2 linked regions of the Homo sapiens genome follow. The protein of the gene in region 1 interacts with the protein of each later gene in a pairwise test. Each region holds a gene or a part of one and is shown on either strand. Other genes may lie near its edges.

Region 1 (3,500 bases):
CAGGGCTCAGAACTGTTGGCTGAGACCATCTTGGAGCTGTTCCTAGCTCTGGCACCAGGCGGGCACCCGAGTGAGTCTAACCTGCCCTCACCTCCTCCCCTCCCCACTTGGCTCTTGCCCTAGGCGAACCACCTCCTCCCTCCCACAGGCCACCAGTGAGCCGTCCTCCAGCCTGCTGTGTGTGAGGAGGGCACCCTCTCCCCCGCACCATGCCCGGGGTCTCCGCAGCCTGTCCCCTCCTCCCGTGCCCTCCCACAGCCCTCCTCGAAGCCAGCGCTGGGTGGCTGCCCTCTCTGTTACCTGGCACTTGAACCTGCCTCTCTGCAGAGGCGGCAGCTTATCAATTATTTATGGCCAAGTTTCTGTTTCTGTCTGGCAGGGGTGGAGGAGGGTTTGGGACTCAGCCCTTGGCTGTGTGTGGCCCCCACACCCTCCTCCTCCTTCTCCTCCCCTAGCAGAGGGCGGCTCTGTCCCTGCCTCCTGCCGTCACTCCCTGTGACTTGTACCTGCTGTGCCACTGGCCACCTCCCTTAGCCACACACACAACCTGCACGTGGACCAGAGGCAGTTCATCAGAGCGGCCCGCTGTGGTTTGAGTGAAGAGCCGGGAGGGTTCACATCTGAATCTCCGACAGCGTCCCAGGGCCAATGCAGCTCCCCTCCCCACCGTCCTGGATGTCTGGAAGCTCCCAGAGGGCCCCGGGTCTGGTTTGGTGGCTTGAGGCTGAATGACACACACAAGAGGCTAAGACCCAGGGGCTGCCAGACACCTCAGGGTGACCAAGGCAGGAGCAGCAGGACAGCAGTTTCCATAGTGACAGCCCCGGAGGTGCTGCGAAGCCTGGGGCATGGGCGGGTTTAGGGCGGGTGGCCCCCACTTACCCGCCTGGCCACCTGTACTGCCTGTGTCTGAGAGTGGCACCTGTTCTGTGGGGTGGGGGAGGTGTTCTGTGGCTCCTTGGCTCTTCCGTGATTTTTTTTTTTTTTTTGAGACACAGTCTTACTCCCATCACCCAGGCTGGAGTGCAGTGGTGCAACCTCAGCTCACTGCAGCCTCGATCTCCCAGGCTCGCATGATTCTCCCACTTCAGCCCCCTAAGTAGCTGGGATTACAGGTACCCGCCACCACACCCGGCTAATTTTGTATATTTTTTTTTAGAGATGGGATTTTGCCGTGTTGCCCAGGCTGGTCTCAAACTCCTGGATTCAAGTAATCCACCTGCCTCAGCCTCACAAAGTGGTGGGATTACAGGCATGAGCCATCGTGCCTGGCGGGATATTTTTTAGATAGAGTCTTGCTCTGTTGCCCAGGCTGGTGTACAGGATCATAGCTTACTGTAGCCTCCATCTCCCAGGCTCAACTGATCCTCCCACTTCATCCTCCTGAGTAGCTGGGACTACAGGCGCGCACCACTATGCCTGGCTAATTTTGTATTATTTGTAGAGATGGGGGTCTCACTACATTGCCGAGGCTGGTCTTGAATTCCTGGGTTCAAGCCATCCTCCCACCTTGACCTCCCAAACCTTCCAAGGATATGAATGCCATCTGGGCTGGCCTTTCTAGCACTGCCCTGGGTGCTGGGGAGGCAGTGTGGGACAAAACACAGAGTTGAATGCTACTGGGGGATTCGGGGTGTGGGGACATGAGAGACAGCAGATTAGATAGTCAGATGGCAGAGTGTTGGGGAAAAAAAGGCAGCGGAGAAGGGGTTAAAATGTAAGGAGGAATCAGGGAAGCCACCACCAGGAGGAGACATTTGGGAAAGAACATTCCAGAATCCTGAGAGGTGCTCAAGGAATGGCCAGGAGTCTAGTGTGGCTAGAGCCGAGGGGAGGGGAGAAGCGGGGGATGAGGGGAGGGCACGGGGCAGGCAGGTGGTGCACAGCTGCGGGAGGAGAGGGCTTGCCTCTGAGCTAGGTTTCCAAGTTCACAGCCCCCAGTGCCTGTGGGGGACAAGCCACAGGGGCAGGAGATAGGGAGGCGGTGGCAGCAGCGTCCTGAGAGGGCAGGGCAGGTAGGGGAGAAGCGGTTGGGTTCTGGGCCTGCTGGGCAGTGGAGCCAGCTGGGTTGGCCATCAGGGTTCTGTCGTGAACAGAGGAGGACAGGCTGGACACCTGGAAAAGATGGCGCGAGGCCCTGCGGAAGCCCCTCCCACTGGAGAGCTCTGGTAGTCCAGTGAGGTCGGGCCACTCTCAATTTCCTTCCCTGCTGGCCAGGACCTTCGTGGGGATCCAGGCCTCTGAGGCCTCCAGGATGGAGGATGCCACCAACGTCGTGCGTGGCCTCATCGTTGAGCTCTCCAACCTGAAGTACGGGGTGGGCTTGGACTCACGGCACAGGGTCTGCGGGAGGCCAGTGGGGACTCAGAGGAGCAGGGAGGGACTGAAGTGTGAAGCCCCTAGGTGGGCAGCGAGGGTCAGGCACCTCACTGCTGCTGGGTCCTCACCGTGGCCCCCCTCCCCCGTCCTTTGCAGAACACAGGCTCTGAAGAAAGGCTGCAACAGGCCCAGCCTGTGCTACAACAGGCCCTTTCTGGTTATGTGCACGTGTGTGAGCCGTGTGTGTGCACCTGAGTCATTGGTGACCATGTGGCTGTGAGGCGCGGCCCCCTCTGTCACCTGGTGACCACTGAGCCCCACACGCATGCCTGTGTTTCCCCCACAGCCGGCTGATCATGGGCACCCACCGGGACCTGGAAGCTTTCAAGCGCCTTAACTACCGGAAGACAAAGCTGGGAGGCAAAGCCCCCCTGCCTTACCCTTCCAAGGGGCCTGGGAATATCCCTCGAGGGGACCCACCCTGGAGGGAGTTGTAGGCCACTTTGAGGTCTGTGTTTCCTTTGCCACCCAGCCCCCATGTCCGCAGACCTCCTCCAAGATGCTCCAGGGGGTCCTAGTGGACCCTACAAACCTCCCTTCAGTTGCCCGGAAGTTGGTCTTCCATGGACAACACAAAGGAGGCCGTGAGGTCCTGGCCTCACCTGGCCAGGGTCAAGGTCATTTGCCACCCTTGGCTTCAGGGAGGGAAACTGTGTCTCCCACAGCCCCAGTGACTTCAAGCGGGCCTGGGCTCCAGGAAGCTGGCCACCTCTGAGCAGGGCCCATCCTGTCCGGATTTGCAAATTTTAGGGTCCTGAGCCAAGTATGGATGGTTCAGAATTTGTTTCTTTCCTGGAGGAGAAGAGAGCTCCCTTTGTTTTCTTTCTCCCCATTTCCATTTTATTTCTTCTGGGAAGACCCATAATAAATGATTCTGTAGAGGCCCCGTGACCTGCTGTTTGGGGCTGAGGCTTCAGTTCCTTCACCTTCCGCCCACAAACCTCTCTACCCACTTCCTCCTCCTCGCCCTCTACGAGTTTTATGCCTCAGCTTCCCTGGGAAAGCAAGGGGGGGGCGAATCTCCAGGGGTGGGTGACTGTGTGCCCACATCTGTGTGCAGGCTCTTGAGCATACACGCGGGTCGAAGCCTAAGAGACGCCCTGGGCGATCATCCAGCTGCA
Region 2 (2,740 bases), on another chromosome or scaffold:
GTTCCAGGACGATGTGGACCTCGAAGACCAGCCACGTGGGAGTCCCCCGCTGCCTGCAGGCCCCGTCCCCAGTCAAGACATCACTCTTTCGAGTGAGGAGGAAGCAGAAGTGGCAGCTCCCACAAAAGGCCCTGCCCCAGCTCCCCAGCAGTGCTCAGAGCCAGAGACCAAGTGGTAAGGGCAGGTGTCCCCACGGGTGCGGCCTGGAGACCCGGGTGGGGCAGTTCAGGACGCCTCCAGAGGACCCTGACTGACCCTCTGCTTGTCCACAAAGGTCCTCCATACCAGCTTCGAAGCCACGGAGGGGGACAGCTCCCACGAGGACCGCAGCACCCCCCTGGCCAGGCGGTGTCTCTGTTCGCACAGGTCCGGAGAAGCGCAGCAGCACCAGGCCCCCTGCTGAGATGGAGCCGGGGAAGGGTGAGCAGGCCTCCTCGTCGGAGAGTGACCCCGAGGGACCCATTGCTGCACAAATGCTGTCCTTCGTCATGGATGACCCCGACTTTGAGAGCGAGGGATCAGACACACAGCGCAGGGCGGTAAGACGAGTCCTCCCGGGGCAGAGGTCAGCCAGGTGGCCAGGGTCCCTCCCACAGGCCTGATCTGGGTGGGTGCAGTGGGAGGAGGCTTCTGGAAGAGGCATCTCATGTCCCCACACTTGGGCCTTGCCGGCCTGGTTTGAGATCCCACAACCCCTGGGGGTGTGGGAGGGATGATGGCCTGACCAGTTGCTCTCCCTGCTCCAGGATGACTTTCCCGTGCGAGATGACCCCTCCGATGTGACTGACGAGGATGAGGGCCCTGCCGAGCCGCCCCCACCCCCCAAGCTCCCTCTCCCCGCCTTCAGACTGAAGAATGACTCGGACCTCTTCGGGCTGGGGCTGGAGGAGGCCGGACCCAAGGAGAGCAGTGAGGAAGGTGGGTGGGGGCACCAGAGTGCGGTCAGCCTGCTGGAGTTTGGGTAGAACGTGGGCCTCCTCCCAGCTGCTGGCCGCTGGCCGGGGTCCTCTCCTGAGTCCAGGATGCTGTGCCATGCTCCTGGCAGCCCCCTGCAGGAGCTGATGTTTGCAGTGTGGTCCTGTCCATCAGCAGGGCCTCCTGGAGGGCTGGGGCTCGCTGCTTTGTGAGTTTCTAGAGAAGTCCTGTCACCCAGCTTGGGGTCCCCGTTGGCCTGAGTTTGAGCCACTGTCTGTCCTGTCTGTGCAGGTAAGGAGGGCAAAACCCCCTCTAAGGAGAAGAAGAAGAAGAAGAAAAAAGGCAAAGAGGTACTGGCTACTCCCCTTCCTGGCAGGCCAGGACTGGGTGGCATGCGGTCCTGGGACCAGGGCTGTGGCTTCCTGTGACTCCATGGCGCCCCATCCTTGTGCTCCTCAGGAAGAAGAAAAAGCTGCCAAGAAGAAGAGCAAACACAAGAAGAGCAAGGACAAGGAGGAGGGCAAGGAGGAGCGGCGACGGCGGCAGCAGCGGCCCCCGCGCAGCAGGGAGAGGACGGCTGCCGATGAGCTGGAGGCTTTCCTGGGGGGCGGGGCCCCGGGCGGCCGCCACCCTGGGGGTGGCGACTACGAGGAGCTCTAGGCCGGCGTGGGCAGTGGCCGCCCTGGGGCGGGGGGCGTGCCTGTCACTGCCTGGGGAGGCATTTGCCTCTGTACCATCGCCTTTGCCGCTGCCCCGTGGCTGCCGTGTGCGCTTCTGAGCTGGAAGAGGCCGGGCATTGGTGGTCCCCAGGCTGGGCCCTGCAGGTGCTGGGCCTTCAGGCCCAGTGTGAGCCTGCTCTGCAAGAAGGGAGGGGACAGCTGGCTTCAGCCAGGCTCGGTGGACACCCTGGCCCTCTCGGGGCAGAGCCGCCAGTGTTTCTCAGGGATGTGACTGAGGCCCAGGAGGGACCTGTGAGGGTCTGTTTACAGAGGCTGGGCAGGGGCCGCTTGGCTGTGGGGTGTGCGCTGCCCCGGCACCTGCTTGCCCTCCGCGCTCATCTGGGGCCGCAGCATGCCTATGGTTCCGCTTCCGGCCGGGAGCCCTGAACACGGGTGTGCAGACTCACCCTAAAGGGCGGCCCAGGCCCCACGCTAGAAGGCTGGCGAGACCGAAGGCAGCATGTGAGGCCTCTCCTGGGAGTGGGGGTTGTGTTTCCCACAGTGGCCTCAGCTGCGCCCCCGCTCAGGTGAGCCCGAAGGCAGGAGCCGGGAGGCACTCCTCCCAAACACTCCACTCAGACCATAAAGCACTCCTGTTTCACTCTGCGTGTGTCTGTTCTTCTGCCTGTACCTCTGCTCCCGCTGCCCCGGGCCCAGGCTGCCGTGGGTTGGCAGGAGGCTGCCCAGCAGTGGTGTGAGGACGTCCCACCAAGTCTGGCCACACCCTGGGTACATTCCAGCCCACCTGTGCCAGGGCTCAGCAGCTGCACGCAGCACGCTTGGCGACCTCAGCCCCAGGAGGTGGAAGTCCACTCTGCAAGGCTCCCAGGCAGCCGCCTGCAGCCCTGCCCCCCGCCTTCAGGCTCCTGCCCCCTCCAGCTGTCAGCAGCGCCCAGCCTCCACCCCCACAGCTACTGTTGCCATGAGAACCCTGCAGGGCAGGCAGGAAGAGTGTGCCAGTGAAGGGGAGGAGGTGGCCAAGCTGGAGGCTCCTCTGCCTGGGAGCCTTGTGGCCCCAGGGTGTTGGGCAGTCACTGCAGTCCCTGAGCAGGTGCTGTGGCCCACAGCAAGCTTAGCCTGGCCCCTTAGCCCACAGCCCATGAGGT

What was found. The genes of interacting proteins can lie anywhere in the genome.
Region 2: the proteins of BRME1 (region 1) and RABL6 interact in a two-hybrid assay, tested with the Homo sapiens proteins (one large-scale study listed by BioGRID and IntAct).

The regions. Positions count from the first base shown.
Region 1 is NC_000019.10:13,882,118-13,885,617, reverse strand, and holds the end of BRME1 (break repair meiotic recombinase recruitment factor 1), read left to right. Parts: intron 1-123; coding exon of another isoform or gene 124-499; exon of another isoform or gene 500-1,115; intron 1,116-2,217; coding exon 2,218-2,310; intron 2,311-2,665; coding exon 2,666-2,816; 3' UTR 2,817-3,270; downstream 3,271-3,500. UniProt on the Homo sapiens protein: Meiotic recombination factor component of recombination bridges involved in meiotic double-strand break repair.
Region 2 is NC_000009.12:136,838,948-136,841,687, forward strand, and holds the end of RABL6 (rab-like protein 6), read left to right. Parts: coding exon 1-174; intron 175-274; coding exon 275-539; intron 540-746; coding exon 747-918; intron 919-1,206; coding exon 1,207-1,265; intron 1,266-1,374; coding exon 1,375-1,575; 3' UTR 1,576-2,240; downstream 2,241-2,740. UniProt on the Homo sapiens protein: May enhance cellular proliferation. May reduce growth inhibitory activity of CDKN2A.